Regions from separate parts of the Homo sapiens genome. Here region 2 is linked to region 1. Evidence: fine-mapped expression QTL. A gene starts in region 1. The other region holds a variant in brackets. All regions are shown on one strand. Distances are between the middles of the regions.

Region 1 (16,588 bases):
AAAAATCAGTAGGAATAAGGAATTTAAACAGCATGGTTAACACATTTGTCTTAATTGACCTACACATACATAAGTGAAGAAATTTGAGAAAACCTCTTCTTCTATATCATACATAGAATATTATTAAAAATTGACCATAGTCTGGGCCATAAAGTAAGTTTCAAGAAATATCAAAGGACTGAAATCACATAAAGTATAGTCTGTGATAATAAGGTAGTTAAATTAAATATTTTAAAGAATCGGCCGGGCGCGGTGGCTCATGCCTGTAATCCCAGCACTTTGGGAGGCCGAGGCGGGTGGATCATGAGGTCAGGAGATCGAGACCATCCTGGCTAACAAGGTGAAACCCCGTCTCTACTAAAAATACAAAAAATTAGCCGGGCGCGGTGGCGGGCGCCTGTAGTCCCAGCTACTCGGGAGGCTGAGGCAGGAGAATGGCGTGAACCCGGGAAGCGGAGCTTGCAGTGAGCTGAGATTGCGCCACTGCAGTCCGCAGTCCGGCCTGGGCGACAGAGCGAGACTCCGTCTCAAAAAAAAAAAAAAAAAAAAGAATCAAAATCGACAGCTAGGAGAATATTGCAATGGAAAGTATAAAATACTTTGAACTGAATACTAATACAAATCAATATGCTAAAACTTCAAGGATACAGTTAAAAATCATACCTGGAGGGAAATGAATGTCTTTAAATGTAAATATTAGAAAATAAGGAAAGCTAAACATCAATAAGCTATAAGCATCCATGTAAAATATTTAGAATATCAACAAAAAATAATCACAAATAAAACCAGAAAAAGAAGGAGGGAAATAAGAAAGAAAAAGATAGAGGTTGGGAGCAGTGGCTCACGCTTATAATCCCAGCACTTTGGGAGGCTGAGGTGGGTGGATTGCCTGAGGTCAGGAGTTCAAGACCAGCCTGGCCAACATGGTGAAACCCCATCTCTATTAAAAGTACAAAAAATTAACTGGGCATGATGGTAGGTGCCTGTAATCCCAGCTACTGGGGAGGCTGAAGCAGGAGAATTGCTTGAACCAGAGAGGCAGAAGTTGCAGTGAGCTGAAATCGTGCCACTGCACTCCAGCCTGGGTGACAGAGTGAGACTCCATCTCAGAAAAAAAAAAAAGTATAGAAATTAACGAAATAAAACACAAATGAAAAATAAGGTTATTCTTGAAAAGCTTGAAAACTTGATAAACTCTGGTGAATATAATCAAGAAAAAAGGAGAGAAAGCACTAATATCCAATGTCAGGAATGGGCATAGGGAAGCACAGTAAATCCTTCAGATATTAAAAAGTTTAAAATTTAGATGAAAGAGATACATTCCTAGAAAATACTACTTATCAAAATTGACAGTAGAAAAAATCAAATTTACAAGAAAAAAACAACCCCATCAAAAAATGGGCAAAGGATATGAACAGACATTTCTCAAAAGAAGACATTTATGCAGCCAAAAGACATATGAAAAAATGCTCATCAACATTGGCCATCAGAGAAATGCAAATCAAAACCACAATGAGATACCATCTCACACCAGTTAGAATGGCGATCATTAAAAAGTCAGGAAACAACAGGTGCTGGAGAGGATGTGGAGAAATAGGAACACTTTCACACTGTTGGTGGGACCGTAAACTAGTTCAACCATTGTGGAAGTCAGTGTGGCGATTCCTCAGGGATCTAGAACTAGAAATACCATTTGACACAGCAATCCTGTCACTGGGTATATACCCAAAGGATTATAAATCACACTGCTATAAATACACATGCACATGTACGTTTATTGAGGCACTATTTACAATAGCAAAGACTTGGAACAAAGCCAAATGTCCAACAATGATAGACTGGATTAAGAAAATGTGGCACATATACACCATGGAATACTATGCAGCCATAAAAAATGATGAGTTCATGTCCTTTGTAGGGACATGGATGAAGGTGGAAACCATCATTCTCAGCAAACTATCACAAGGACAAAAAACCAAACACCGCATGTTCTCACTCATAGGTGGGAATTGAACAATGAGAACACATGGACACAGGAAGGGGAACATCACACACTGGGGCCTGTTGTAGGGTGACGGGGGGGAGGGATAGCATTAGGAGATACACCTAATGTTAAATGACGAGTTAATGGGTGCAGCACACCAACATGGCACATGTATACATATGTAACTAACCTGCAGGTTGTGCACATGTACCCTAAAACTTAAAGTATAATAATAATAATAAAAAAGAAGAGATGTGAACAGAAAAGAGGGAGAAATACTTAGGAAGTAGAATTGCTCAGGCTTAGGACTGATTGTGTTAGGCTGGTGCAAAAGTACTTGTGGTAATTGAAAAAACCACAATTACTTTTGCACCAACCTAATATCTGTAGGTGAGAGGTGATTGGCCAGCCTTTTGATGCTGCATTTGCATCAGCACCACCCTTACCTGGGCCAACTGGCTGTGCTCAGGGTGAGGGTCATGGGTTCAAAACACAGCAGCAAAGGAGCTCCTCAGTAGGACACATTGGCTGTGCCAGTCTGAATAGCCCCTGACTCTGGTTCCGGAGGGTGAGCAGGAAGCAGAAGACCACAGGAATAAATGTCTGCAGACACTTCTCTGCATCAAGAACAAGGGAGGACTTTCATGAGGGCCAGTAAGAGTCTTCTTGAGGATGGAAGGGGTAGCAGGATAGATGCATGTTCCCCAGCAGATTCTTGCCTTTCCTCGAGATGGTGTGGATAAGTGGGAAAGACCTATTGTTCCCCAAAGTGATCTTGTCTGCCGTAAGTGTTTCTTTATGGAGAGCCACTTGGTAAGGTGAGGCAATTAGCTTTCCTGTCACCCATGTCCTAATCTCTAGCAGCTCCCTGGGAGGAAATGAGAGTCACACTGCAATCTCAGACAAGGGCATCCGGCATCCTAACACTCAGGTAAGAACCCCCGCTCCCGGTGGTTATTCCCCCTGGACTAGCCCATGAAAGCTGTTTTTCAGATCTACAAGAGTACCTCTATTTTACCTTTATTATTCTTCTGTGAAAGGAAGGTTTCACTCTGAATAAAGCTATGCTATCCATCAAAAAAAAAAAAGAAAAAATAAGAATTTGGAATAGTCCTATAACTATTAAAGATATTGAATCATTTATTAAAAACTTTTCCACAAAGAAAACGACCACAAAGAAAAAGTCTGATGGCTTAACAAGTAAATTTTATTAACTATTAAGGAAGAAATAACACAGTTTATATAAGAAATAATCTGTATAAACTCTTTAAAGAAAGAAAAAGAGGGAAAACTCTCCACTTCTAACAAGGCCATCATTACCCTATACAAACATCTCAGAAGAATATTATGAGAAAGAAAAATTCAGGCCAATCTCACTCATGAACATAGGTGCAAAAATGTTAAACAAAATATTAGCAATCTTATTAAATATATGTATAGATATGAGTAGGGTTTATCCTATGAATGTACACTTAGTTTACCATTAAAAAAGTCAACACAGTTAGGCCGGGCTCAGTGGCTCACGTCTGTAATGCCAGCACTTTGGGAGGCCGAGGCGGGCGGATCACGAGGTCAGGAGACCAAGACCATCCTGGCTAACACGGTGAAACCCCATCTCTACTAAAAATAGAAAAATTTAGCTGGGACTACAGGCAGGCGCCTGTAGTCTCAGCTACTTGGGAGGCTGAGGCAGGAGAATGGCATGAACCTGGGAGGCGGAGCTTCTATGAGCAGAGATTGAACCACTGCACTCCAGCCTGGGCGACAGAGCAAGACTCCATCTAAAAAAAAAAAAAAAGTCATCATAACTACTTTTTAATACATAGAATGATGGAGAAAAACCATATGATCAACTCTAGAGGCAGAAAAGTTGATTTAATAGTATTCATTCATAATAAAAATTCTTAGCAAACAAAGAAAATGAGGGAACCCTTCTCCTCTCTTATCTGATAAAGGATATCTGTGATAAAGATATGATATCATATTTAATACCCATCCTTTTGAGATCAGAACTAAGACTAAGATCTGTGCTGTTGACTATCTTGAAGAATCCATCTTGAAGAACAGAATGAAAAGCCCTGCTTCATTGAATATTAAGACTTGTTATAAATCATAATGATTACGGCAATGTGATATTGACATAAATATTGGTAAATAAACTAGAGGAATAGAAGAGGGAGCCCAGAGCAGACCTATGGGTAGATCAGCAATTGAATTATGACTAAGGAGCCACTGCAAAGTTGTGAGGATAGGATAATCTTTTCTATGAGTGAGGCTGTGATATCACTTATTCATATTAATAAAAACAACCTATATACCTTCACACCATAAGATAAAAACAGAACTTAAAAATAACTCATAAGTGAGTAAGAAAAAGACAAACAACTCATCATAAGAATGGGCAAGATATTTGAATTGGTCCATCAAAAGAGAAATGTCCTGGCCAGGCTCTGGGGCTCACGCCTATAATTCTAACACTTTGGGAACTCAAGGAGGGAGGATTGTTTGAGCCCAGGAGGTTGAGGTTGCAGTGAGCTGAGCCATGATTGTGTCACTGCTCTCCAGCCTGGGCAACAGAATGAGACTCCAACTCACAAAAAAGAAAAACAAAAAGAGGATGTCCAAATGGCAACTCATCATAGAAAAAATTGCTCAAACTCATTAGTCATAAAGAAAAGTTGAATTCCACAATGAGATACTGCTATGCACTCACCAGAATGTCTATCTACTGTGACAATTCTAATATACTAATTGTCAAGGATGTGAAGAACTGGGGAAGCTTATGCATTCCTGGTAGTGATAAAATCAATACAAACAATTTGGGAAACTGCGATATCTACTAAAACCGAACATACATATATATATACCATGACCTCACAATGCCACTCCTACATGTATACCTCCCAGAAGTGCATGCCTATGCATACCAAGGGAAGTGTGCAAAATGTGCATTGTGGCAGTATTAATAATAGTCAAAGCTGGAAACAGCCTAGATATCTTTCTGCAGTAAAATGGATCAGTAAATTGTGGTATTACATACAATAGAAAAACAAAAAGACTACAGCTACTTGCAACTGCATGGAAGAATATTACAAACGTAATATTAAGGGAACCAAGTCAAACATAAAAGGGCGAAACAGTATGATTCCATTTATATAAAGAGCAAATCTAGAAAACCTAATCTATTTTGTTTAGGGATGGATAGTTAGGTGTAAACTATAAACAAAAAGAAGGATTTGATTATTCTGAACATTTGAATTGGGCTGGGAGTGGTGTCTGAAGCCTGTAATCTCAGTACTTCGGAAGGCTGGAGAAGGAGGATTGCTTGAGCCCAGGAGTTTGAGACCAACTTGGGCAACATGATGAGACCTCATCTCTACTAAAAGTAAAGAGCTGAATGTGGTGGCATGTGCCTGTGGTCTCAGCTATTTGGAAGGCTGAGGTGGCTGGATTGCTTGAGCCTGGGATGTCAAGGCTGCAGTGAGCTATGTTCCTGCCACTGCACTCCAGCCTGGGCAATAGAGACACTGCAAAATAAAAGGAAAGAAAGAAAGAAAGGAAGGAAGGAAGAGAGGAAGAAAGGAAGAGAAAGAGGGGGAGAGAGAGAGAGAGAAAGAAAAGCAAGCAAGCAAGCAAGCAAGAAAGAAACTAACTTTTAATTGAAGGGAGGGGCAAAAGAGGAGTTTCCGGAAGGCTGACAAGAATCTGTTTCATGGCCTGACATCAGTATTTTCCTTGTGATAAGCCATTATACATTGTTGTTTATGAACTTCTTTTCTGTATGTGTGTTATCTTTCACAATACAAAGGGTTAAGAAATTTAATTGATGAGCAGAGAGAGAGAGAGGAATGCAATGAGGACACATTTTCCAGGAGGGGTAGGAAGACTGGGATTCCTGAGGAAAGACAGGAAAGGGAGGGACAAAGAGTAAAAAAGGCCCTCAGAGGAAAGGGGCCAGGGGACAAGCTGCTTCTCTGCAATTTTACAGGCCCAAGTCCAAAAGGCGGACAGCCACCCAGGGGACTGATATTGCTCTTTGATACCCACATATCTGCTTTATTGTTTCAGAAATCTGTCCATTATGAGGATGAAAATTTCTCTTTTAAAACTTCTCTTTCATAGAAAAATACCTCTATTTTCTTAGGCTGTAGCAGGTCTGACAGGATTCTGTACCTTTTATACTGCATAGTTCTTTATTTAGAATCATTTCTTGTAAACCACTTGGATAAAAAAACCTAGTTCCTTTATTGACTTGCTTCAAAAATGTGAATGAGCTAATTCTAAAAACTCTTGGTACAGATTCTCAAGGTACTACTGGGAGTAAATTTAACATTTAGTGCCAATCTACAAGAAAAAATTATTTAGTTTCTCATTCTCAGAGACCTGTTCCTTTTCTTTTTGCCCCTGGTAATCTCAAGGATTACAATGTCTACCCATTGGGGTCAGAGGACGAGCATAAAGCCTGCAAATTGACCCTCCTTGGATTTCCACTAAATAGGAGAATGCTTGGAAAGGGGAGACAAAATAGAGATATATTTCCAGCCAAGGAATACTCTTTCTTGAGGTTAAGAAATTATGGCAATTATGCTAGGATGTGGAGCAGGATGCACCATTGGGGAATAGCATTTCCAGTGATTCCAAAGACATATACAGATTCCACCTATCCCTTTCCCCAAGAAAAAAAAAAAATCAAAAGTGTGCTCTCTTTCTCTCTCTCTCTCTCTCTCTGTCCCACCCCCGCCGTGTGTGTGTGTGTGTGTGTGTGTGTGTGTGAGAGAGAGAGAGGAGGTGAGGAGGAGAGATAGAGAGAGAGTGTTGTTGGGAGTGGAGACAGTGTAAACTTCAGCCACTAATTCATGTGCTCAACTATATTATTCTTAGAAGAAGTGACTGCCTGCAAGAGTTCTGGATAAAATTGGGATAATGATGTTAATGATTAAAGTTTACTTATTTCTTTGTTTCTTTAGTTCAAGTTGTCTGCAACTACATACCTCATTTGTTTTTTGCTGGAATAACCTCAGTATATCTGTATGCTTTTAAATTAAATTCACTTAAACTCAGGCATAGAATCTGTAATTCAGAGAACTGGATGTGAGTGAGGGCTTTGTCTGGCACATGTGTCAATAAATGTTAGTTATCACCATGATTAGTATTATTATTTTCTTCCTGAGAAAGAGAATCACCATTTTGTCCTAGCTTAGCCAAAGTATTGTATAAACTGCAGTGTCCCCAACCTTTTTGGCACCAGGGACCGGCTTCATGGAAGAAAATTTTTCCACGGATGGGGTGGGGGTGATGGTTTCGGGATGAAACTGTTGCACCTCAGATCATCAGGCATTTGTTAGATTCTCATAAGGAGCAACCTAGATCCCTGGCAGGCATAGTTCACCAATAGGGTTCGCTCTCTTATGAGAATCTAATGCCCAGCTGATCTGACAGGGGACAGAGCTCTTGCGGTAATGCTGGTTCACCAGCCGCTCACCTCCTGCTGTGCGGCCTGGTTTCTCACAGTCCATGGACTGGTATGGTGTGGTCCAGGGCCCAGGGGTTGGGGACCCCTGGTATAAAAGATCCCAGAGATCACACCCGCTGTGACCCAGGTCACTTCTGGGCCTTAATTTTGACATTAGGAAAATAAAGAACTTGGATTCCCTGAACTGTGACTCAAGGATTTTCTGTCTTCACGGAGTGCCCCAGGTTTCCTCACAGGTTGGGAATTAGTGACCCCTGGGTTCTCCAGTGGTCGGTGCCTCGGTGGGAGAGAATGCACTGAGATGGGGGAGGGGAGCTGCTGCTTTCTTCTGGAGGCAGTGTTTACCTTTCCCTGGGCAGAGGTTGTTGAAATTAAGAAAACCTGGTAAAGCAGATGCCAGGGACAGATATTACCTAATTTGGTCAAAGAACAAAGACCCTGTGAAACATTTGGAAATCCTCAACGGTGCATAGGGACGGGCACACTTACTGGAAGAGCAGAAACAGGATCACCCAGCATTTCAGAGTAGGGTTGCTGCATCTCAGAGGGTGAGCATAATAATGTCATTACTATTTCGAACAGTCTGGGTTTTTGAGAAGGAAGCTTCTGGGTTGGAATATTGACTCCACCAGCTACTAGTGCTATGTTACTAGTGCAAGGTACTCGATGGCTTTGAGCCCCAGTTTCCTTTTGTGTAAAATGAGATAAACATCTAATTTATGGAGCTGTTGAGAGGATGGAATAGGTAGCGTAAGGCAACCTGGAATTCATTAATGTAAGCTTCTCTCATTACCATAAAACTAATAGTCTTTCTAATTCCAGACACCTTCAGGTTTACTCATGCTTTACTGAGAATTCTCAAAATCTCAGTAGTTTTCTATAATGATTGGACTCCTTGCTCCCTATCAACCCCCCAATCTTTGGCTGCGGAGTGGATGGAAGAAGAGGCACGTGGGGAAGGACTGGGGCAAACCCTCTGGTGTCCTGGCCTCCTGGCCCGGTGGGGACTGTCATGGCGGCCCAGCAACAGCTTAGGTGATCTCAGATGGCAGAGCAGAAAGAATGCAAGGGTATGAGGGTCAGGGCTGCGCGGACCCCTATCCCGCCTGCGGTCCTCCCGGCAAGCCCAGCGGGAGCGCCCGCTCGGCTGGGTCCCCGCCTCCAGCGGCGCCGGGGCCGCCCAGACCCTGGGCTCAGCCTCGCGCCCCGGTGCCCACCTGAGGAGGCAGCGGTCCCGGCCTCGCGTCCCGGATGGGACGGCGCGGGAGCAATGCCAGTGGCCCCGAGCGCCCCGGGCCACGCGCGGGGCCGGCCAGCCGCTCTCGCGCCCTCCCCGCCCCCTCCGCGCCTTGCCTCGCCGCCCGCGGCCCCCACCCACCGGCCGCTCCTCCCCTCTCCCCACCCTCCTCCTCCGCCCCCTCCCCTCCCCCGCCGCCTCGCAGATAGCTCGGCCGCGCGTCTCAGCCGCCGGGGCCCCGAGCGCAGGCGGCGAGGCCACCACACCTGCAGAGCGCTCGGGCTGCCTAGCCGGCACCTCGCCTCCCGCCGCGCAAACCCCTTCTCCCCACGCGCCGAGTCTCCCATGACGCCCGAGCCCCCCGGCCGGCGACAATGACCACTTCCCTGCAAGATGGGCAGAGCGCCGCGAGCAGGGCGGCTGCCCGGGATTCGCCGCTGGCCGCCCAGGTGTGTGGCGCTGCCCAGGGGAGGGGCGACGCCCACGACCTGGCGCCGGCCCCCTGGCTGCACGCGCGAGCGCTCCTGCCCCTTCCGGACGGGACCCGCGGCTGTGCTGCAGACAGGTAGGCAACCCTGGAGGGCGCGGGGGAGTGTCCTGGCTGGGCAGCCGGCGAGGGGGTGAGGAGGCGGTCCTAGGGGGTGAGCCATGTGCCCAGAGCTGGGCCAAGTTTGTAAAAGTCTCTGAAGACAATCCCCTTTGAGCTGGCTCCTACCGGATCAGCAGGACATTGCGATCTCACAGCGCCTTATAAATAGCATCACCGTTTCATTGAGAGCTCTCATCTCTCTCGCCTCTGCCCATCGGTGGTGAAACTAGGAGCTCAGGCTGCAGGCTGATCACCTTCTGTTCCTTCGTGGCCATGCATTTTCACAAAGTAAACTCTATTTTATTTTATATATTTTAAAAAAATCGTAGCATAAATGTATTCACCTCCCACATAGAGTCTTACAGCGACCCTGTAGAAGCAAAGCATGGATTGACATTCGAGCAGTCTTGCTGTTCGGCAGGAAAGAATAGAGGCTTTAAAGGGTTTCCCAATCTCCATAGCATTCAGCACTAAGTGCCTTTAGAGTTGCACATACTTTCGGAAAGAAAAAGGGTTACAGCAATACAAAAATCTATAGTCCTTTATATTCATACATTTAAATGTTACTTTTTTTTTCCTGATTTTCAAAGCGCTCCAACTTCAGTGAAGTTAAAATTACTCTCCAGTGGACTATAGTACATTTATACTAGCAAGTTCTATTAACTTACCGCCTCAAAACACTGCCTTGCTGTTTAATATCTATAAGCGCTTGAAAAATCAACAGACTGTGTGTGGGCAACATTGTGAATGAAATTTGAAGTGAGATGAACCACAGCTATAATTAATAAATCATAACTTCCAAAAGTGATTAGTAAAATATCATAAGGATGAATGCACTAAATGCAACTTAGAGACTGTCAATATCATGGATGCATAACAATGTATGACTTCTCAGGTGATGTTTGGATTAGTAATTGTATAGTCTATTTTTCTGTTTCAGGAAAATTATCAAAAGTGATGGAGTTTCTATGCCTGGTGATTTAAAGGCAAGAGAGAGAGAAGGCGGTGGGGGGGGGAGGGGTGGTGGGAGGGGAGAGAGAGAGAGAGAGAGAGAGACAGAAAGAGAGGAACTATAGGAGATTTGTTTGTATCTAATTAACATACTGTATTTTGACCCATAGAAAGTACATCACAGACCTTTTCTATATACTTTATATAATATGAGCCTTGTCACAGAGTGGTACATGTTCGCCTTAGCACACTTTTTATTCCTGACAGCAATTATATTTTACATTCTGTTTTATGTAAATTACATCCTATGTTCTCTTACTGTAGGAGAAAAAAGAAAGATCTTGATGTTCCGGAAATGCCATCTATTCCAAACCCTTTTCCTGAGCTATGCTGTTCTCCATTTACATCTGTGTTGTCAGCAGACCTATTTCCCAAAGCAAATTCAAGGAAAAAACAGGTATGCATTTTTAAATTTTAAATTTCAAAAATCTTAGGAGTTCTGAATCCATACAGTCTTTAAGGTGTTCCGTAATTTACAGTATTAACAAAGGATTAGCATGGGCTCTGTTAAATAACTCTGTTGACTGACATGGTCCTTTGGCATTATTTTCCATTTAGGGCCTTATTCTTCTAAGCCGTATAATGGGAATGTTAAAACCTACCTCCGAGGGTCTTGGGATGGATTAAAACAGAGAATATATATAAAGTGCAGTGGTTGAGAACAATAATCATTCACCAGATAGGTAGAAGAGATGATCATTTTTAAGCCAGGAATTGGGCAGAGGCTGGGACGGGGTGGGCAGTAGTAGTGGGGTGAGAAGGGGATTGACTGATTCCTTTAATACTTTCTTTAATTTTTCACATTTTCAACCCAAGCCAACCTCATTTACCTAAGGAAAGTGATATAGTGATGCTGTGGCAAAAGGTATTTAGAATTTAGGGTCAACATGTCTTCATTTCAGTGGATTCCTCAGTTTGGAGGCTCTGGCTGCAGAAGATAGATGACTCGTAGTGATAATTAGAAGACTAAGGACCATATCTTTATGATTTTCTCCTTTTCTAGTTTGGGATTGACTTAAGCAAATTAGATTTTAAGGACCAAGCAACTAACAGAAAATACATCATGGCTGTACATTTGGAGGGGAAAAAAATAGTGTATCATAGAATAATTCATCTCTTGTCATATACTTTCTCCCAGTTTTGACCCAGCAAAACAAAGAGAAGCCTCACTAGACAAAATGCACCTTATTCTTACAAGGGTGGAAACAATACATTGAAATAGCCAGGTACTTGAAATGGGAGAAGGATAATGAACAGCGAGGACAAGACAGTTGGCCATTTTTCCGCGTCTATTGCTCTCTTTCTTATTTCTGCACCTTTATTGCTTCTAATGGGTTCAACTATGTGTGTTTATATTTTTAGGAATGGAGGAAATACCTTAGGAAGCAGATGAATTATTGATCATATACAGAAATGATAGAGACAGTAGGAAATATGTTTGATGGAAGCCCTGTGTATATATTTTTGGGGGGAGGGGCTTGAAGTCACTTGGTACACAGGTTTTTGGGTAAGGATTGGAGAAAATGGGAATAAATTTTTCTAGAAGCAGAACTATGTTCTGAATTGGCATCTTTGAAAGGGGGAATAAACCCTTAAGTGGGTGGGACTGTAACTTTGTTTGGGGAGACAAAGAGGAGACTCTCTTGAGACCTTTATTATCAGGATGAGGTTTAAAGTCAGATCCCAAGGAAAAAACAGCCCTAGTGAAACTTCCAAGCTCTTTGAGAGTTGACTTTTTGGTTTGGATAGAAAATGGAAGTAAGGATAATAGATTTGACTGTGTGCCATGGTAGTGGAAAAAAAAAAAAGAGGCCGGGTGCGGTGGCTCACGCCTGTAATCCCAGTAATCCCAGCACTTTGGGAGGCTGAGGCGGGCAGATCACGAAGTCTGAAGATTGAGACCATCCTGTCCAACATGGTAAAACCCCGTCTCCACTAAAAATACAAAAATTAGCTGGGTGTGGTGGCCTGCACCTGTAGTCCCAGCTACTCGGGAGGCGGAGGCAGGAGAATCGCTTGAACCCAGGAGGCGGAGGCTGCAGTGAGCTGAGATTGTGCCCCTGCACTCCACTCTGAACGACAGAGCGAGAATCTGTCCCCCGCTGACACTACCCCCCCCCCCCCAAAAAAAAGATTCTGGCTTGTCCTTGAGCCAGAGTAAGAAAAGGAAATGTCTGATGATGACATAATGGTCATCTGGAAGAATTTAATAGGTAGTTCCCAAATTACTAAGGGCCTGCTATGTTTCTCACAAATCCTAGGCAGTAAGGACCCTAGCTAAGCAACAATACCATGCAAGATATATTTAAAAGATGGGGCTTTGATTTGGGGTTGTGGTAGCGGGTGGAGCCTGAACCAGAAGGAAAGTAAAGGGAAGGATATCTGGGCTGACTCACTTTAATGCTATGAATGGACACTTGCAGAATGCCTGTGTCTGAGAGATTTGTTGATGATGCAGGGTTTGTTTTGAATAGAAAGTGAGAAGAGGTGTTGGTATGCTTATGTTAGTATAGGGGACAAAAGAGAAAGAATGGGTAAAGTGCCAGGGTTAAGGCAGGATGTGCCCTAAGTGTGGATAGTCATCAGACTAGAGTAAGACGTCTTAGAGATTGATGACATTTCCTCAGATCAGGTTTAAACTGGAAAATGGGCAAAAAAAAAATAGCAAACTGGAAATGGGGAAAAGGTGATATTGTTATTGACCCCAATAGGTTTCCTGCTCTGGCCTTGTATCCTGTGTCCACAATGACCTTCTCAAAGAACACTGTACCCACACACACACCTGTACTGTTCCCTGAGCAGAGAGTCCCCGCCTGATTTTTAAAGATCCATCCCAGAGGGCTGTCCCTACCTTTGAAGGGCCCTTCTTGCTGATCTCTTCCTTGGCCCAATGGTTGAGATCTCTATGAAGACAAGGGTACCCCAAAGTTGAGGAGGAGGGAGGCTGCTTTTTACTTTATTTTATGCTTCCTTTTTCCCCCACCTAGACTTTGCATTTAGAACTGATCCTTTTGCTTTAGTTTCTTTATACACACTCAGTTCTTTGAAATGAGGAAGGTTTTGAGAATAGATGACTCTATGTAAGTGAGTCCCCCAACTCAGTAGCTTTGCAACACATATTACCCTTTTACAAGATGCTGTTTTTGGCCCAGTTTATCTGTAACCTTCAGTTGAGATGATGTAAGTGACTATGCGATATGTTCTACTGAGTATTATTTATGGTTGAAATATTATAGGAGAAGATGTCTCTTTACTTTATATTCTCTCTCATTTGTCCTGTTTAACCATTCCAGTCATTTTAGTGATTCTTTTCTCTCCACAGAAAAAGTGAAGAAAATAATTGTACTTGTTATTTACAAATCAATGACCAGAAAATTTGAGAGAATCCAGACTAAAAATGTTAAATTTCATCTGGCCTTTCAAAATCACAGTCAAAAACCATCTTACAAGTCATAAATTTTGTTTACTATTTGAGATGCCTACATAATGCATGAGTGGTAAAGTGCATTGAAGCCACAAATGGGATATGTTTTATCACTTTTTGCAAATAAAATGTCCCAAAGTGTACAATACTGTAGGCTTTCAGTACCATTATTTTTAAATGAAAGCTAGAGTGAGAGAGAATCCATATTCTTTTTTTTTTTTTTTTTTTTTTTTTGAGACGGAGTCTCGCTCTGTCGCCCAGGCTGGAGTGCAGTGGCACAATCTCGGCTTACTGCAAGCTCTGCCTCCTGGGTTCATGCCATTCTCCTGCCTCAGCCTCCCGAGTAGCTGGGACTAGAGGTGCCTGCCACCACGCCCAGCTAATTTTTTTTGTATTTTTAGTAGAGACAGGGTTTTACCGTGTTAGCCAGGATGATCTCCATCTCCTGACCTCATGATCCACCCGCCTTGGCCTCCCAAAGTGCTGGGATTACAGGCATGAGCCCCTGTGCCCCGCGAGAATTCATATTCTTTATTCCCTTTCCCTCTTTTTATAATGATGGCCAGATTTCCTAGGCATCTTTCTTTGTGTTTACTAATAAAGCAAATTTAAAGTATACCTTCCCTTACATACATGGTCCAGAAAAGTTACTTATATTAAAAGTGACTTCCATTATGAACTTAATCTCTTTTTTCTAATTTATGATTTAAATTTATAAGGAAATCATCTGTTAGTAATGAACCCTAAACACCTATTGTTTGAAGGAAAGCAAAGAGTTAGAAATCTTTATTTAGCTCTTGCAGCAGAATCAGTTCTTGTCTTTTTTGTTGACCCCTAGGTAATTTTTGTGCTTGGACATAGCCTGTGTAGTAGCTCTGGTTAATTGCTTCCCAGGACTATGTTGTACAACTAAGTAAGAATAAAGCCTCTGAAGGCTTTAGAGATTTAAAAAATGCTATGAAAACCAGTGTCATGAAATGTTTGAGTTGGATGGGATTTTTCAGATCTTCTATTCCAATATTCTTCTTTAGTGATACGTAAATTGAGTTTAAGGAATGCTATGTGGCACAGCCAGCACCTGAAATCTGGATTTCTTGAGGCTTTGACAGTCCCTTTTTAGGAAGGTACAATTTCTAAAGAAAGCAAGGACTGTAAATAAGAGTAGTATAATAATACATGTGTACCAGTGTTGTTAGTTACAACTCTCCTCATAACACAAGAAGAACAGGGGAGACAAACGCCATTTGTTAATATTCATCTAAGGACCTGGAATTCCTCTTTTTATTTCTTCCCGAAATGTAACTACGTTTTTTCTTCTAGCTTTCTTCTCCATCTTCTCCCTAAAATTGGTCTGAGAAATCTATCAAATATTTGATTTTATTATCAAATAAGATTTATTAGTATTATTAATAACCAGCTTTTGTGTGTGGTTTACGGTCCACAGGATATTATTTCATGGGAACACAAGAAAATGAGTATGTCACCTGCATTTTAAGATTACAAAAAGAGTATGCAAAAACTGGAAGGGATTTGCCCATGCTTCCACAGTTTAAATAAAGGGAGATCAAAAAGAGTATCATGTCTCAATGTGTCCTGTCCCTTACCACACTGTTTCTAGTGTATTCTTTATTAAATTAAGCCTTTTTTTGTATGTCTCAGAAAAATAAAAATTTATCTCAAATAATTAAAAAATTAGTTTTCCATATGCTCGGCCTTTTATTTCTTTTTTCTCTACCATGTCACGGACTTTCAAAGGATAAGCAGATCTCTGTCCCCAAATTAAAGGGCCTCTTATATCATTCCTTTGTGATGCCAGTAATTACCCCACTTTGGACATGCTGAACTTGTATGTGTGGTCCTATAGGAATCTTGTGTGGCTGCTACATTAACTGAAATTTCATATACTTATTTTTCTAGTATACATAGAAGTAAAAGAAGAGAAACCCATGTACATATTGTAGTTTTTCCAGACTCAGCAATTATCAAGATTTTGCCTCATTTACTCCATCTATTTCTTTTTTAAAAATTTTATTTTCTTTGCTAAAGTATTTTGAAGTATATCCTGGACACCCCATCATTGCATCTCTACGTAGTTTTGTATTCATCTCTGAAAAATGAATTTTCTTTTATATCCCAAATGCCATTATTCCCTAACATAAATAACAGCAATTCCTTGATATCGTCTAAAACCATTCATAATTGAATTTTCTCAGTTGGAATGGCTCATGAAATTCTCAAATTACAAACTGCTTAGCTTTCAAATGTCTGAAAATTAGCTCTTTGGAAGTTTAAATTCATTTTTAGATGGAAACAACATCATAAATTGTATTTAGGCCCTCTGAGCTATTTTACAAAATCCCATTTAATTGGAAACAAAACATATATGCAGAAAGAATGATAGAAACAATACTCTCTCCTATTAGGGTTTCAAACAAATCTATCTTTCCAACGGCAATTTGCTACTTTTGAGTGCTGTCACTTGATGAATATAATTTTTTGGGAGAATTTGAAAGCGTGCAGATCTTTGTAGCAGTGTTGAAGCAGGCTTTACAGCTGCGCTTCTCAAAGTGTGGTCATTAAATCACCTTCTTCAGAATCAGCAGGGATGCTTATTAAAAATATGGATACTTGGACCTCTTGCAAAACCCACTGAATAGGAATGTTCTGGGGGAGGTTATAGGAATTTGATTTTTTATATTTTTTTCTCTTTGATATGTATACAAATCAGTGCTACTCTTAATCTCTACCATTTTCAAACTGGGGCAATTGGACCTTTCAAAACTGAGGACAGTTGTGTTTTGTTGACAAAGGTGAGTATGTTACAAATGGCCTTTAGTTGGTATTTTAGCCAGGTATTGATTGTTCAGACA
Region 2 (16,588 bases), 54 kb after region 1:
TTTTACTGTGAATTACACCATTTAGCATTATAGTGTTTTCTTCCTTGCTCCTTTCTTCCTTTTTATTTTTATTTGTCCTATTTGCTTTTGCCTATTCTTATGAACAGGCAACTTGATGAAACACTTGGTTATAGAGGGTTCTCTTTCCCATAGAATAGAGCAGAATCTGTCTTATGATTCAACTGAATGTTTTTCTTTCAATAGGTGAGTTTAGCTCTGCAACATCTCTGAGATAACATAAAAGTTTAGCATTAGTACTGTTATTTTATGTTTTCCAATTTATAGATTTTTGAAAAAAATTCACAAGATGTTCTGCTTTCTTAGCTTTGTGTTTGCTCTTTTTATTAGAAAAGTTTATATTTCTGTTATGATTATAAATGTAACTGTAGGAAAGTTCTTAATCCTCTTATTTCCTTAAAAATGATCTATTATTCCTTTCTGCAGATGTTTCCTCTTCATCCTCCCTTTTCTACCAGCTGACCTTAGCATTATAAAATAAATTACTTAGAATTCTCCTATGATTTATCAGTTTAAAATATCTTTTTGATCTTAGTTAGCAAAGCAGTCAGTTTATATAGTATATACTGCATACCATGTCCTTGCTCCCTCAGCTTTCATCTTTTTGAAAAATTTTATCATTCATATTTTCATATTGAAATTTCATAACGATTCTTAAATTGTTATGGCTCATATTACTTACGTTTTATTATAGCAACATAATCACATACATGATTGGAATTTAGTACCATGATTGATTTCAGTGTTTATTTCAGTTATTTCACTCAGGTTTTTACAATCACTTGGATGACTAAAATTTATCTTCTAGTAAATTCCTCAAGAAGATCCTATGAAAACAAGATTTTATATATTTGTAATATGTTCAAAATTTTGAACATTGTCCGTTGCCTTTATAATTAATGAGTTTGATTGAATTTAAAAATCTCATTTGTATTTTCTTTTTTCAAGGATTTCATGCACATTACTGCATCCAGTGGTGTATCTAGAGGGCAGTGGTGTCCACTGAATCTGACTGTTGAATGTTGCTGTGGAGAGATTTGACAACAGACTGATTCCTGCCTTAAAACAAGCTACTAGAAAACTTTTGCCTTGCTGTTCAAAATGTTTCAGTAATTTTACTAGGAAGTGTCTTAGTGTTGACTGTTTCTCTGGGGAACTATGTGACTTTCACTGAGTTTTTTTTTTTTTTCTTCATTTTGAGATAGGGTCTCCCTCTGTTCCCCAGGCTGGAGTTCAGTGGAGTGCAGCCTCAAACTCCTGGGCTCAAGCAATCCTCCTGGCTTAGCCTCTTGAATAGATGGAACTACAGGTGCTCACCACCACACCTGGCCGTATTTTTTTATTTTTTGTAGAGAGACAGGGTCTTGCTCTGTTGTCCAGGCTGATCTCAAATTCCTTGACCTCAAGCCATCCTCCTGTCTCAGCCTCCCAAATGGCTGGGATTACAGGCATAAGCCACCATGCCTAACGATCAATAAGTTTTGACTACAAAAAAGTCTTATATTTTATTTATTCTTTTCTGCTGTTTTGGTTTTCTTCTGTGCGGATTTCATTTTCTGTCTAATGTTTCTTAAATTTAAGATAATTTTTCTGGCTGGGCATGGTGGCTCACATCTGTAATCCCAGCACTTTGGGAGGCCAAGGTGGGCGGATCAGGTCGAAAGATTGAGACCATCCTGGCCAACGTGGTGAACCCCGTCTCTACTAAAAATACAAAAATTAGCTGGGCATGGTAGTGCATGCCTGTAGTCCCAGCTACTCGGGAGGCTGAGGCAGGAGAATCACTTGAACCCGGGAGGCGGAGGTTGCAGTGAGCTGAGATCGCACCATTGCATTCCAGCCTGGGTGACAGTGTGAGGCTCCGTCTCAAAAAAAAAAAAAAAAAAGATAATTTTTCCTCTCAATTTGGTTACTTCACTGTTAGAGTGGAGGGGAAAAAATGGCTAGTGGTGGATCAGATCAGCTCATCAACTGTAAAGACTGACTCTATGTCATTTACTTAAGGAAGTGAAAATTCATAGTAGAGTATGATGAGCTGGTAAAACCAGAGTTTCTGAATTTACCTCTGAAGATCTAGGCTACATATTTATTGCTGCAACAATCTATGTTAAGAATTTTCTTCTCAATATTCATGGCCAACATCTGGCTTCTAAAGGAAAGGCTTTTGGTCTTTTCAATCACTTGCTGATAGGGTGAGACTGCATTGTTACCCATAACCACATGACCTAATTTAGAATCAATCTTGGCATCCAGTCTTGCATTTCTAATCAAATTTACAATCCACCTTTCAGCTTCTTCTGGAGTCATGTTCAATTTATCTGCCAACATGTTAATGCTGATACACTGGTGGATGCGACAGAAAGTCTCAAATATGAAGAGACGGGCATGAATATTGAGAAGAAACTTAATTAGAATAGCAGGTCAGAGGCTCCTAACTGGGCAACTCAAGATTCTGGCTTCTACTGAAGAACCATAAAGAAAAGATGAAAAAAAAACTATTAAAGAAAGATGAAATAATAAAACTATTATATAAAGGGTGACTTACATTTTGGAAACAACATATTACGTATAAATTTTGAAGAATTGGAATAAAATTGATTCATTTAAAAAAAAGAATTTTCTGAGACTGGTGTTCTCAAGACAACATTTAGATTTAGTGTTCACACTAGTGGTCACTAATAGAGCTGTGTCAGATAGTGAAAGAATATCTACATTTTCCTGTAAAGAAGACTTTGTGCTTTTGTTCAGAAAAAAATCATAAGGCTAACAATTGTTAAGATGAGAAAGGAGGCTTGTCCACTATGTAACCGGAGTGACTAGTCTTTCCACATTGATTGTATGTGAACATAAGGCCTACTGTGTACAAAGAACACTCTGCTAGGTATTCTGGGAGAAGCAGAGAAACTAAGAGACTCAGTCCTAACCTTAAGGATTATATTTGTGTTGAGTGGAAAAAGTAGAGCCTGTTGAAGGATTTATAAGTTATCAAAACAATGCATTAGTAAGTCTCAGGCAAGAAAGGAGAAATGGAAAAGTTTAAGTCCTAAAAAAAATTACAAAACAGGGAGTGATATGATTTATATGGAGGGATGGCTGCTTGATGGAATAAATTTTGATCTATGTCTTTGAGAGAGATGATGAACCTAGCTAGGCAATGAGTTATCCCAAGGGGGCACAGCACAATAGTGTGAGATACAGGGAAAGATGAAAGGACAGTGCAAGTTGTATTTTGTGTGAGGCAGGAGATTGGCTGGATTAAAAAAGTATTTGTAGGACTTGATATTCAAGAAACATCTCCTTATTGCTTTTTTTTCTCTGTATAAAGCCACTGGGGGCTTTATACAGTCAGATAGACACTGAGATGGTCAGAGAGAAGTTAGACATGCCACTGCCCTCAAGGAACCTCCATTCTAAATAATATAGAATGCATCCACATAGGAGACAGTAGCTGAAGTTTGAATAAACTGGTGTATGAGAAAGAATAAAGTGGTAGTATTGCAAGGACAGGTAGGGTTTGAATCTGTAAAATGAGATGAAATAATACTTACTTTGCAGGGCTGTTAGAATAAAATGAAATAACATATGCAAAGTGCTTAACACTTAATGGGCAATTGATATGTGTTTGTCATCTTTCCTTCCTTCCCCACCTCTCAATTCTGACATAACTTGTATATAAAAAGGAGAGATCCTTGAAAGATGCACAGAAGTGAAATTTTCAGAAGAGGTGTGACTGGCCTTGGGCCTTCATTGTGGGGCTTAATGAACTGAGGAACATTATGAACAAAGAGGTGGGAATACAGAACATGCTTTTGGGAGCTTCGTTGAAGTTGAGTGGGAGAAGAGATTTGAAAGGGGGACTTGAAACCTAGAGGTTGGATGGTACTTTTGTATTAGACTGGTGCAAATGTAATTGCGGTTGTTGTCATTACTTTCAATAATAAAAACCCCAATTACTTTTGCACCAACCTAATAGCATTTTTCTTCTGCCCAGATTCCACTTTGTATACTATAATAACTGATGGTTTATGTGTCACCCTGCATCAGCTGTTTTGGTAAAGAGGAGTCATGAGTTGATTAACTTTGAATTCTCCATAATAAACAGCACAGCACTTTACACATAGTAAGGTCTTCAATACATATTTATAAAGCAGGTTAATCAAACAAATGCTTGGGTACGTCAGGAACAAGGGCTGTATGAATGTGACATTTTATGCTAATGTATCAAGCTATGTATTTAATAATAAAATGTGGAAACACATGTTGTAGAGTGGAATAGTGGGGTGCCTTGGAGAGAGCCAGATTACAGTTTTCTCCCTGGCTTAGTGGCTATGGACTTTGTGAACTTGGTCAAGTTCTTTTGCAGTATGTGCTTAAACCCAAGACCATTTCTTAGCTGCCTGCTCTTCTGGCCTTAATTTCCTCATCTATTCAATAGCTAGTACCTTATAGAGTTGTGAGCATTAAGTGAAAACTAGCTCAGTGCCTGGCACATAATGGGTGCTCACATAAATATTATTGATAATCACAATAATAGTTATTTTTATTTTTCCTAATTGAAATATTGATATGAAAATATTTTAAGTGACACATTTACTCTTGTTCTATCCAATTATCAAATAAAATTCTAAATAATGTACACTGCTATTCTGTAATATTTTATTGTTGACTCTGTTGTGTTAAAAACATCTTATAATGTTAGTTTCGTTTTTGGAGATAAAAGACCAATTCTCTGCAGCGGGAGTTTAAGGAGTGTTTTGTTAGTGTCTGCCTTGGGCTCTTCCAGGCCTTCTGCAAACTTGATTTCCTTTGATCCTCACAGCAGTTCTGAAAGTTTTGGTCATAGTTTTTTATCCTCATTTTTGCAACTGAAGAAAATTAAGGGTCAAGTGACAAGGTTAGTGAGTGGCAAAGTCATTTATAATAATTAATGAGAAAAAAGAATAGGCTGAAGTTAAATTTGGAATCAGTGTCTAAAATAACTAGGAAGTAAGATAAAGCACAGTCAATATGAGCACCTGCAAAGGATTACAGAAAAATGAGATTCCACCTGTCTTAAGTATGCAGGGTGCTATCTTGTTCAGTCTGCTGACTATGAAAAGTATCGGTAAGCTTCATTTTTCAAAGACATTTGCCTTTTTGATAACATAGTCACAAAATGCCAAATTTTGCTCTTCATAATTTTCCCTGAAAATTTAGAAACTTAGTTTTCCAGTGTTCTGAAGGGATGACCTATCACACACACGTAAACAGCTAGTCATCTATTAAGTGTTTTTAAGCCCTTTTAGGGCATGTATATATTGCACTGTAATCTATACAGGACCTGGATACTGTTTTGAATTGAAGCGTTCATTTTATACATAGTGTTTAACAGGCTTTATGGTGTGATACAAAACAGCATTTCTAACTTCCCCATCATCTAGACTTCAAACCTCAGAGTAAACTTTGAGACCTTGACCCTGTGTTCACATCAGTTTTCAAGTTCTGCATATTCCTCACCTCTATTCACTTTTCAAAGCAAGTGCCGTTTCCTTCTTGCAGCCTGCCCTGATCTTACCCCTATTGTGCAGTTGCTTCTACCTTGGTGCACCCTTGATACTTAGCATTTAATCACTGTTAGTCTCAACTTACCACTGAATGGGATATTTTAACTTAAAAATTAATATCTCTATTCCACTATGAGACAGTGACCTTAACTGTCTTAATAATAGTGTGTTCCTACTGCCTGATACAGGGTTTGGCAAATAGTACTTTGCTTGATAATTTAGTGAAATGAATTACTTTCATTATGATGGAACCCCAGTAAAATTTTTGAGACCAGAGATAACACTTTTTTTTTTTTTTTTTTTTTTTTTAGATGGAGTCTTGCTCTGTCACCCAGGCTGGAGTGCAGTGGCGCGATCTCGGCTCACTGCAACCTCCACCTCCCGGGTTCAAGCAATTCTCCTGCCTCTCAGCCTTCCGAGTAGCTGGGACTACAGGCACGTGCCACCATGCCTGGCTAATTTTTTGTATTTTTAGTAGAGGCAGGGTTTCACAGTGTTAGCCAGGATGCAGAGATAACACTTTGTAATATTTGAAGGCTAAATTGAGAAAAGAAGACAGATAAGGCCAAATATTATGGGTGATATTCTTGAAATTATTTGTTACCATGGTCTTTGTTATTGTTGGCTTGCTGAAAAGTAGCTCAAGGTTAGAACAGAATCTTTTACTTCACAAATGCTAACCCCCCATCGCTGTATTAGTTGGTATTT[G/C]CTTTCTTGGTAATTTTCTTTTAAAAGATCATGATAAACCTAACTGGATAAGGATCAAATTAATTAATGCCTCCAAAATAGATCTGTGACTTTTTATATTAAGCGCATTACTGCCACTCCCAACTACCATTCTGAGGGATTTTTGGTTTTGAAATTCAAAGCAGGGATCCTTGGAGTTGTAGTGTCTCTTTTTTCTTTTGAGGAATATGAGCTCACCATGCATATTAAACTCACTTATGTATAAAGCAGTAAAGTGAACACTGCCTAGTAGCAGTCAAGATAACGAAATGGAAAGTTTGTGTCTGTGTTGCTGAGTATCTTCCATTTTGCCTTGTTACTACAACAACCACATTGTAATCTGGAAATTACCAGTTCTTCTCCCGCTGAAGGCAGTGGGTCAGGATTGAAGAGCATTGAGCAGTTCAGTGAAGCTTGTCCAGATGTCAGTCCAGAAGAGATTTTACAATTGTAAAAGCTCAGATTAGTTTTAACGTTGCAATCCTTTTTGTCATTTTTGAGTGTTTCTTTCATTTTTTATTTAGACTTCATTGAAATTTTTCTTGTTAGTTATAGATGTTTTCCATTGTAAACCTCCTCCAGCCTCCCTCCCCTAGAAACATTAGAATAAACTTTTCAGTTTTTATGAGAAGAAATGCAAAATGGTCATTAAAATTTTGAGAAAGTTTTGGCAGTGGTTATTTTTTAAATGCTTTTAATGGAATGAAATATGCTACATCACACACATTTGTGCTTTTTAAAAACATAAGTATTTGAGATTGATATATTGTAGTTTAATCCCCTCTTTGTATTTAATACTATTATTTAGGTTTATTGTTAAAATAATATTTAACAGTGTGTGATATCAAGGATAGCTGGAAGGCTTATAATACAAAAATTTTAATGTTTAGGAAATGAAAGATATTAATATATATTAAAACTCTTTTATTATACCATAGAAATTAACACTTTGTGCCAATTCTAACCTCAGGATTATTTTTTGTGCCTTGTGTATGTTCCAGTTGATCTCTTCATCAATTTTATGAATAGCATAAGTAAATTTAGTTCATTAATATATTTATATACTTTAAATAGACCAATGTAAACAGATTCTTATCTGCCATATGTTGAAATGCTTTAGTAAAGACATAACTGCCTAGTCAACAAAGATGGCATTGAATTGCACTGTTTTGGAAAAAAAGTTGAGCGAACTAGATGCCTGTTAATCTGGTTCTTTAAATATCATAAACAAAAGTATCAGAATGTGTTTCCAAGGACAAAGGCGGGGTTTTCCGGGCTTTGATTGGTTGCTGCCTTGTCCTGTCCCACAGCCATCCTTAATTGGCTTTGGGTAGATTGGAATCACATAAGCAGGGTGACATTTATTACTTTCCTAGTTGTTTCATTGCACTGAGCCCTGAGATTCCCAAGGAGTAACCATAAAAGATTTCTTTTATTTTGTCCATGACCTACGAGACAGGATCATTCTAAGAAGAGCAGGCATGAGTTTGAGTGCAAGAAGAGTCACTCTGCCTGCAATAACGCCAATAATTCTACAGAAAAGGGTATGTGACTTCTTTATCCTTTTTTTCTTTAATTTTTCTTGCTGCTTTTTTTCCCCTGTTACTGTGTGTTTATTAATACATAGGAAGCTTTACTTACATACCCTTGAAAGAGCCTATAATTCATTAAAGTTGTAGGTAAAATTAAAGGACATATTATTGGAATTGAACTAGGAAAAATAATACTGCGCTAGGACATCGCTATAGTTAAAAACTTTCACCTAAAAGAAGTTTGATCTCGATTTCAGGTCACTGTGATTTAGAGACTGTATTGAAACTTTTCCTTTTTTTTCTTTCTACTGTAACTTCAAGCCTCTTTGTTTTTAGCTCAGTAGGAAATCTGCTGTTATGTCTTATATTTGTTTACTAAGGAATAGTTTCTTTGTTTCACCATAATTCATAATATATCAATCTCTTCATTGTTGAATAGACTATACAATTATTTTACTGTTTAAACATGTGTTACCAGTTTATTCTCAGGTTTCTACCCATTTCTATTGAGCTTCTGCGTATTTGCTTAAGAAAAACTTTCCATTAAATTCCCCTGTGAAAGGGCTTTCTGTTAATTATTAATGCAGTCAATCCTGTGTATGAAAATATTTTATTTATTAGTTTTTTGTAAAGATTATTTTTATGTCTCACTTACAGCATTGCATTTTACAAGGTGGTATATGCAACCATGTCATGTAGTCATAGTAAACTTTTCTTGTAACTCTCCAAAATAAGAACATTGCACTGGACTTCTTAAAGAATCAAATCTGTCGCATTGAGAAGGAAGGCACTAAAACTCAGTTTTGGCAATATGCTTACCAAATGGTTTTGGTGACACTAGAAACTGTAGTGTTTATTTTTGAACTCAACTTTTAATAGTTAACTGTTAACTATCAGTGCATTCCATTAAGTCAAAGGTCATGTTGCAATTTATTTGAAACATGGCAAATCTAACAGTTAAAGTGGCTATAGTTTTTAAAAACGAAGTGCCTCTTTACTATTTTTAATTTTTAGATTTTCAGCTTATTTTCTTATCCAGTCAACCATTTATTTACTGAGAATATTTTATTTGGCATTGGAACAGCTATATGATAATTTTGCCAACATGAGTTCTTTATCTTTCTTGAGGCCTTTTGCTAATTGTAAGCAAATTTAATTAAAAATATTTTGCTTTGGGTTTTAACTTTTATTTGGAATTGGACTTAGCAGTGCATTAATAATGACAATATAGGTTCCTGGACTCACTGAGGATGTGAAAAGGCATATTAACATTTATCAAGTCTATGTTCTCATGTTTGAATTCTTCTTTATCCGGTTAATATTGCAGTTTAGATTGACTAAGAAACTTCTATCATATGGTTTGTTTTTGATGACATGTTGGTATGATGGAAAATGTACTATCTGGACTCTCCATTTACTAGCCCTGTGACTTTGGGCAAATCCAGTAAACTCTTGGAGTCTTTACTTCCTCATCTGTATAACAAACTGAGGAGTTTTCAGTAAATAATATCTTCAGTCTTATTTGTGTCTATAATTCTGTGAACCAAATATTTTATATTTTCATGGTTATAGTAAAATATGTAAATTATTTTTATTATTTTAGAATTATTATAAAACATTAGGAAAGAATGCTGTAATTTTCAAGGAGTTTGAACAATTAGCCTAGGGGAAATTGGTTATGGGAAAACTTGGCTAGAAAAATAACTTCTAGCACTGTTTGCCAAGTAGGAAAACAAGATTACTCTGGAAAGCGGTGGTTATTATTGATGTTACATCTGAGCTGCCAATGGTCACCTCATTGTGATTTATCGTGGTATTTTAATAATAAGCTTCTTGTCAAGTTTCTGTTATAATATTTATAAAAGTCAAAATTCCCTAGACTCAAGTCTATGCTATTTTTTTCAGTGAGTGCACATATTTTGGTGTTTATATAATTTAGCACACCATTATGTGCTTCTCCTGATATTTTAACTCTGAAAATACCCATTTGATTGTTCTGAAGATCTTAATGTCTTTTATTTTAGGAGTTGGGTATTTTCTGATTTAAAAATCATCCATCTGCCCTGGTCACACCATGATTAATTTTTTCTTCCAATATAAGAAGTTATTTCATACTTGTAATTAATTTATTTTCCATATATGCCATAATTTTAAATGATCTTATAAATCAGTACAAGCATTTCTCAGAGAATTTGGGGAGCAACTTATTTTCCCATGAAGGCAGGTGCTTTTTCCACAGGTTTGGTGTAAAGTTCACTCATCCTGAATGAGTGGCCCTTGACAAATAATTTATCAAATGGAATCCTAATCATTTAAAAGGCTGAGAGCATTCTGAAAATGCTCCGTAGCAATAGGGAGTAATTTTCTTATCAGGTAGTGTGTCTGATCCAAGTGGCTGTAAGTGTCTCTGGTAGTGCTTAGGAACTTGAATTTTAAACATGGCCCTTCATGTGGTATAGATCTATTTTGTAGCAGAGAAAGTACGCCTTGATCTTTGAGAAGAAAGGTATTTTGGTAGATTCTCTATCAAGTAAATTGGAAAGAAAATGTTCACTTCCAAATTCTATTAGGATCTGATTTCTCTGATTTAAGTGAATTAAGGTTCTGGTGAAGAACGTTCCTCATGTGCTTCAGAAACGATCACATCCTCAGCAAACATTGTGAATGAATCTTTTACCTCATCGCATTTTTCTCAGATCATCACTAGGTTGTAGCTTTTTACTTTTTCAAATGAGAAGACTGAGTCTCTTGGGTGTTGAGTGACTTATGCAAGGTCACCCAGAAGGTCAGTGGCAGAGCTAGAAATAGAATCTAGATCTTGTGACTTCCAGTATGCTTCTCCTAGATACGTGTTACCTCCTGAAATTAATATGGAAATGAAATTGCCTTATGGTGGGTATAATTGCCATTCAAGTCTGGAATTAGCTTAGGCAAATCCTTTCATCTTCCTCTGCACCTCCACCAACTCCCTTATGCTCTAGCATAGAAAACATTTTATTCAGAAAGCAATTGTAAGCAGCCAAGTGTGTGTGTGTGTGTGTGTGTGTGAGTGTGTGATAGAAAGACAGTTTATACCTGGAACTCCAGATTGGCACATTACATAAAGAAAACATTTTAAGGTCCCGGAGAGTTAACATAAGGCTCAAGTATTGTAAAGTATAAACTAAGTATAATATAAAATTCACATTCTTTTATGGAAACACTACCAGGTCAGAAGGCCTTACATCCATATCCTGATTCGGTGGGTCAGGCATATTTCATGTCTCTATCAGATTAACATTTTTTGTTTGTTTGTTTATTTGTTTGTTTTTTGAGATTGAGTCTTGCTCTGTCACCCAGGCTGGAGTGCAGTGGCGCCATCTTGGCTCACTGCAACCTCTGCCTCCTGGGTTCGAACGATTCTCCTGCCTCAGCCTCCTCAGTAGCTGGGACTACAGGCGTGTGCCACCACACCTAGCTAAATTTTTGTATTTTTACTAGAGAAGGGGTTTCACCATGTTAGCCATGATGGTCTCCATCTCCTGACCTTGTGATCTGCCCACCTCGGCCTCCCAAAGTGCTGGGATTACAGACATGAGCCACCGTGCCCAGCCAACATTGTTTTTAAGTTATGTTTGCAAACATTTTTGCATTCTTCATCCATGCTACAATTACAGGAGATGTTCATAAGCACACAAGATCCTGAAGTATCTTCTGAAATCTCAGAGAAAAAAAGGGATACTTTTAATGACATATATTTTTTTAAGATTCAAATCCTTTTGAAAATTGTAAATTCATGAGTGTAATACGGAGCAATGCCATTTATGAGAAGATCTAATTCCCCATTCATATAAGAGAATAGTTCATGTTATAATCATTTCTTTCCTCATACAATTAGACTAATTGCTATGATTTTCTAAAAGTGATTTAGTGGAGGAAAGAACACATCATCACATCACTATTTTTCCCAGAATCTTTTAAACATGCACAAAATCAGTCCAGGCTTCCTTAGCATTTGCCATGCTCCAGGGCCTGCCTGGCCCTCAGCCTGCCCAGCTTCCCTTGAAGCCTTCACTGCAGCATATCGTTTGCCTCCTTGGGCTTCAAACGGCTTTTAAAATCTGTATATCTGCACTTCTGCTCCCAGAATTGTGCTCTGCAGCCTATAGACAACACCAGGCTCATTTGCTTTCCCAAATGCTGTCTATTGCCTAAGTGTCGGCTCAGGCTGTGTTCTCATCCTAAAGCCTTCTAAGACTCTTTTGCTTCACCTTTATCTTCAAGGTGCCTTGATTTAGTATCAGTGGACCCACCTTTATTACTCATTTGTCAATTCAACCACTACAGCCCTGTAACATCAATTTTATTATTACCTTTTAAATAATATTTAAGTCATATTGCCGTCCATAGGTGTGTACAATATGACTTTCAGTTGCTCTATCTTGTTTATTTTTGTATATCTTGGACCACCATTTGGTTTCCAAAAGTTGTCTTTTGATTTTTGGTCTTACAACTAGATCTTAGTATTTTAAAGGAAGAAATCTTTAAAATGTTTTGTCATTTATGGGCAGAATGTAATTTCATGTAACCAAAAAACACAAAGGACTGTGGATTAAGGAGGAAAAGAGATTTATTTTTCTTTCACTTTACAAGGATAAGTCCAAAGCTAATGTTGCAGCCCCACAATGTCCTCAGGCAACTGAACTCCTTCTCGCTTTCTATTATTTCTTCTCTAGTGTGGGTCCTTTTTCCTTTTATGGAAAGATAAATGTAAATTTCCAGTCATCCTGTTTACAGTCTTTGCACAGAGAATGTGAAGGACCAAGAACAGGCTCGTGAGTTTTATACCAGTTAACGTGCCATTGTGGAGTAACCAGGAGTTTCTGCTTACATCTTGTTGGCCAACTCTGGATACAAGAGGAGTCAGGAAATGCGGGCCTGGAGTGTAGCACACTGCCCTCCTCACCAGAATCAGGATTCATCAGGAAGGAAGAGAGGAAGGGTGGATATTGGTGGGTAACTCGCCATCTCCTCTACAAGTGCCTTGGACATATTAGACATTTAGTAAATATTTGTCTGGGATTTTTGTTATTCTGGTGCCAGATATGAAATGTAGCTATGCTTTTTGAGCAAATAATATTCTATTACTTGTATAGGGATTGTAGGTATGGTAATAAGTGGGGAGAGAGCAGATTTCCTGTGCAGAAGAGGGTCGTGGAAGGCCATGGATGGTGGTCTTAGTTTAGATGGTGGACTTGCTTGGAAGGTGATAGTGAAGTGGTAGTGGGCATTGTTACTGCTTTTTATCCAGAGTTCTCATTCTTGCTAAACCTTGATATTTCTCCTGCCCTTTTTACTTTTGTACAGAGTAACTTAGTTGCATACTCAACCAGGAAGGGTGTCACACAGATGAATGGTATTTGCATTTTAGTGAAATGTTTCTTTTCCTGAGAAGTGAGTTTTTAGGAAGTGTGTTGTAGCAGATTATATGTATGCTTTAGAGCCAGGAAACCCAGAGTTTGAGTTCAGCTTCATCACTCTCCAGTGCCCTGGCTTTGGGAGCATTCTTTCAAAACCCTCTGAGAATCAGTTTCTCTATCTTGGGGATGATGATGCTTCCTCACAGAACAGTTGTGAGGATTCAACAGAATAAATATTTAGAAGCATTTCACACATAGTAGAAGTCTAACAAATATGAATTTCCCTTTTTCCCCACCTGTGAAATGGCATGTTTTACTAGTTTCATAAACAGTTTAAATTTCCCTGTGACTGAGAATTTAAACTTTCCGTGCCCTATTCTCCTAAAGTGGTTATCCAAAGATTTCATAGTAGAAAGTGAGTCAAACAAAAAGTGGTTTTTCTTCATAGATTTCAGCCAGGGAGAGAAAGACAATATATCTTTCAAATGCTTGCTCCCACTGCTTTCCTTTCTGTAACTTTAGAAGGTCTCTAATTTGAATTAAAAAAAATGAATCCAACTATATACGCTGATGAATATATTTTTTAAAATCTTTGGGAACGTAGATTTAAATACAAGATAGGTGGTTAATTACTCCTCCTTTCAGTGTCCTAAGGAGTATTAGACGGGGACTTCTGGGTTGTATATTTGAAAGGGATAAAAGTAGGTCTAGTATTAAGACGTTGCTTCAGTAGGCAAGTGGTGTTACTATTAATAGAACCTTAGCTGTATGATGGTGAGAACTTGTTACTTTTGATCATCATTGAACCCCAATGCCCAGCACATAGAAGGCACAAAGTTGGTATCTAATTACCAATTAGTTGGATAAAAACAATTTTTGTAAAGGCAAGATTGAGCTCTTTAGATACTGACCTGCTATTTCCTTCCTAATATTTGTCTCTGTTGCTTTTCTTTAATTTTTGCCAAGTTTCTCATCTTTTGGGATGAAAAGCTGTAATGCTCAGGCCTTTTCATTACCTTTATCTAGCTCCAACTTGCTGCAGTGGGCAATTTGGTATACCCTTCACACAGAGTATTGCCCTTCACAAAGAACAATAAAAAATAGCAGCTACAACATGTTCAGCATTGATTACACATTCACTTTAACCCTCATAAGAACCCTAAAAGCTTGGTGGCCAAACCCATTTTTGGATGAGGAAAATTGGCTTAGAGAGTTAAGTGTCTTGGCCAAAGCACCTCGCTCATAAATGACAGAGGTGGGACAGAGGTCCGGGCCTCTGCTCCACCTAGCACAGGAGGCTGTCCCTCAGAATTGCCTGGGCACATGTACTGCATAGCTACTCATCACCGTGTAGCTGCAGTAATTTGTCCTCTCACCTGTAGTCTTTTCATGGGACGAATCTCACCTTTTCTGCCAATCTGCCTTTTGCTCTCCTAGTTACTTTTCCTTGCTGTGCACTCAGTTTTGCCTCAAAGACATAGTGATTCAACCATCAGGTCAGAGTTTCTTAGAGCTCAACAGGACTGTAGGGGTCTCTTGGGACTTATTCAGAAATGCCTTATTTTGCTTTCAAAATTTTATAATAATAATTGCTAACATTAGTTGAGTGCTATCAGTTTGCCAGCATTTTGCCCATTTTACAGTATGAGGAGTCTAAAACTCATGGCTAATAATAAGTTTGGGGTCTGAGATCTGATCACAGCAGATTCCAGGATCCCCTGTCCACTGTGAACACCTGGGCTGAACCCCCATGAGTACAGTTGCTGGGCATCATGATTTTGCACACTGTACTGCATGTTCCACATTTGGCAGTGAAGGCTGATTAAAAATAGCTGGGCTAATGAACGGTCTCAGACTACTGCTTGGGGCGGTCTGTAGGGCTGGCTCTCATGGCTGTGCCCCAGAACTCTAAGCCAAATATTAAAAATAATAATCTCTTTTTTGGCAGGAAAAAAAAGAAGCAAGACTTTTGGTAATTTCAGATTCTAAACCCCTAGAAAGGATAAGGATTTTCTACCCCTGTAGGATATTAATAATGCTTGCTATTATGATAATTCTCAAAGAGGAATTCAAAATTTGTTTTGGCAAGAACAGCATTGTCAGAAAGCCTCCTAATCAGACATGCATATTTGAACGTATACATTCAGGCTTTGTTTGGGAAAATACCAGGAATTATTATTTTGCAGTTTGAAAACTGAAATTATCTTGGGTAGTTTTATCAATATTTGAAGAAAAAATTTGATATAACTGTTCGAAATCCCAGCGAAAACTCCAAGTTTGAGTTCCAGGAAAGGTTCCTGGTGAGGTGACACATATGTATATATACATATGCCCCCCCAATCCTTCTTATTAATGTTTAATATGTAGAAATCATTTATCTTAAAAATTCAAATATTTACTAATTCTGAAAAAATAGATATTAACTTTGTCACAAGCTTGTGATTGTATCAAACAGAAACCCCATAGTTTTAACAAGGTTGCAGTTTTCGAAACATGATATTTTCTCTATTTGCACAAACTGAGAAATAAAGACTCCCTCTGCTGGCTACTTCAGTATTTGCAATTATTCTGGCGAGAAGCTATGAAAAGTGAAAAAACAAAACAAAATGAAGAAAAATAGTCTTTTTTTGACACTCAAAAAGCTAGGTGCTTTGGGATATATGTATGTATACATCTAATTATGTTCTAGTGTTTATTTATCTAATACTTTTATCCAAGATGTCATGTAGAAGCAGCAGCTTAAAGCAGCCTAAATACTGGACGAACAGAATGGTAAGAATACAGCATCAGGTGGGAGCCAGAAATGGGGTTCTGTGGCTGGCTCAGCTGGTGACCATTTGGAGGTCCTTGAGCAGGTCAAGACTCCAGCTTCAGCTTTTTCATTTGTGAAATGGGAGGATTTCAGTGGATGTTCTCCAGGAACCCTTCTAACCTTTAGTATTTTATGATTCTAAACAGTATAGATTCCATTTCTTTTACAACACTGTGCTCTATGCATGTCTTTCACTGATGTAAAATAAATATTTAGAAAAATGTAAACTAGTACAACCACTATGGAAAACAGTATGGAGATTCCTTTAATAACTAAAAGTAGAACTACCATTTGACCCAGCAATCCCACTTCTGGGTATCTACCCAGAGGAAAATAAGTCATTATACGAAAAGATACTTGCACATTCATGTTTACAGCAGCACAATCCACAATGGCAAAATCGTGTAACCAACCCAAATGCCCATCAGTCAACGAGTGGGTAAACAAACTGGTATATTTATATGATGGAATACTACTCAGCCATAAAGAGGAATGCAGTAATGGCATTTGTAGCAACCTGGATGAAATTGGAGACTATTATTCTAAGTGAAGTGACTC

Alleles and levels. Alleles are on the strand shown, and positions count from the first base shown. SD is a standard deviation of normalised expression in the study named.
With allele G in place of C in region 2, the expression in spleen of the gene that starts at base 8,896 in region 1 is lower (moderate effect, 0.60 SD a copy in GTEx).

What was found. PIP is the estimated chance that this variant, and not a neighbour inherited with it, causes the effect.
Region 2: its variant is fine-mapped to the expression of GRB14 in spleen (GTEx, PIP above 0.99).

What each region holds. Positions count from the first base shown.
Region 1 is chr2:164,613,790-164,630,377 of GRCh38, reverse strand. It overlaps GRB14 (growth factor receptor bound protein 14), which reads left to right and starts at 8,896. Exons shown (of 14, transcript NM_004490.3): 1 at 8,896-9,259; 2 at 10,559-10,691. The coding sequence starts at 9,069.
Region 2 is chr2:164,559,558-164,576,145 of GRCh38, reverse strand. The region is part of intron 2 of GRB14 (growth factor receptor bound protein 14); the gene reads left to right. It also overlaps the pseudogene EIF3EP3. Among named protein-coding and RNA genes, the nearest start is that of GRB14, 54 kb to the left of the region's middle. The variant G/C (reference allele first, on the strand shown) is at 6,270.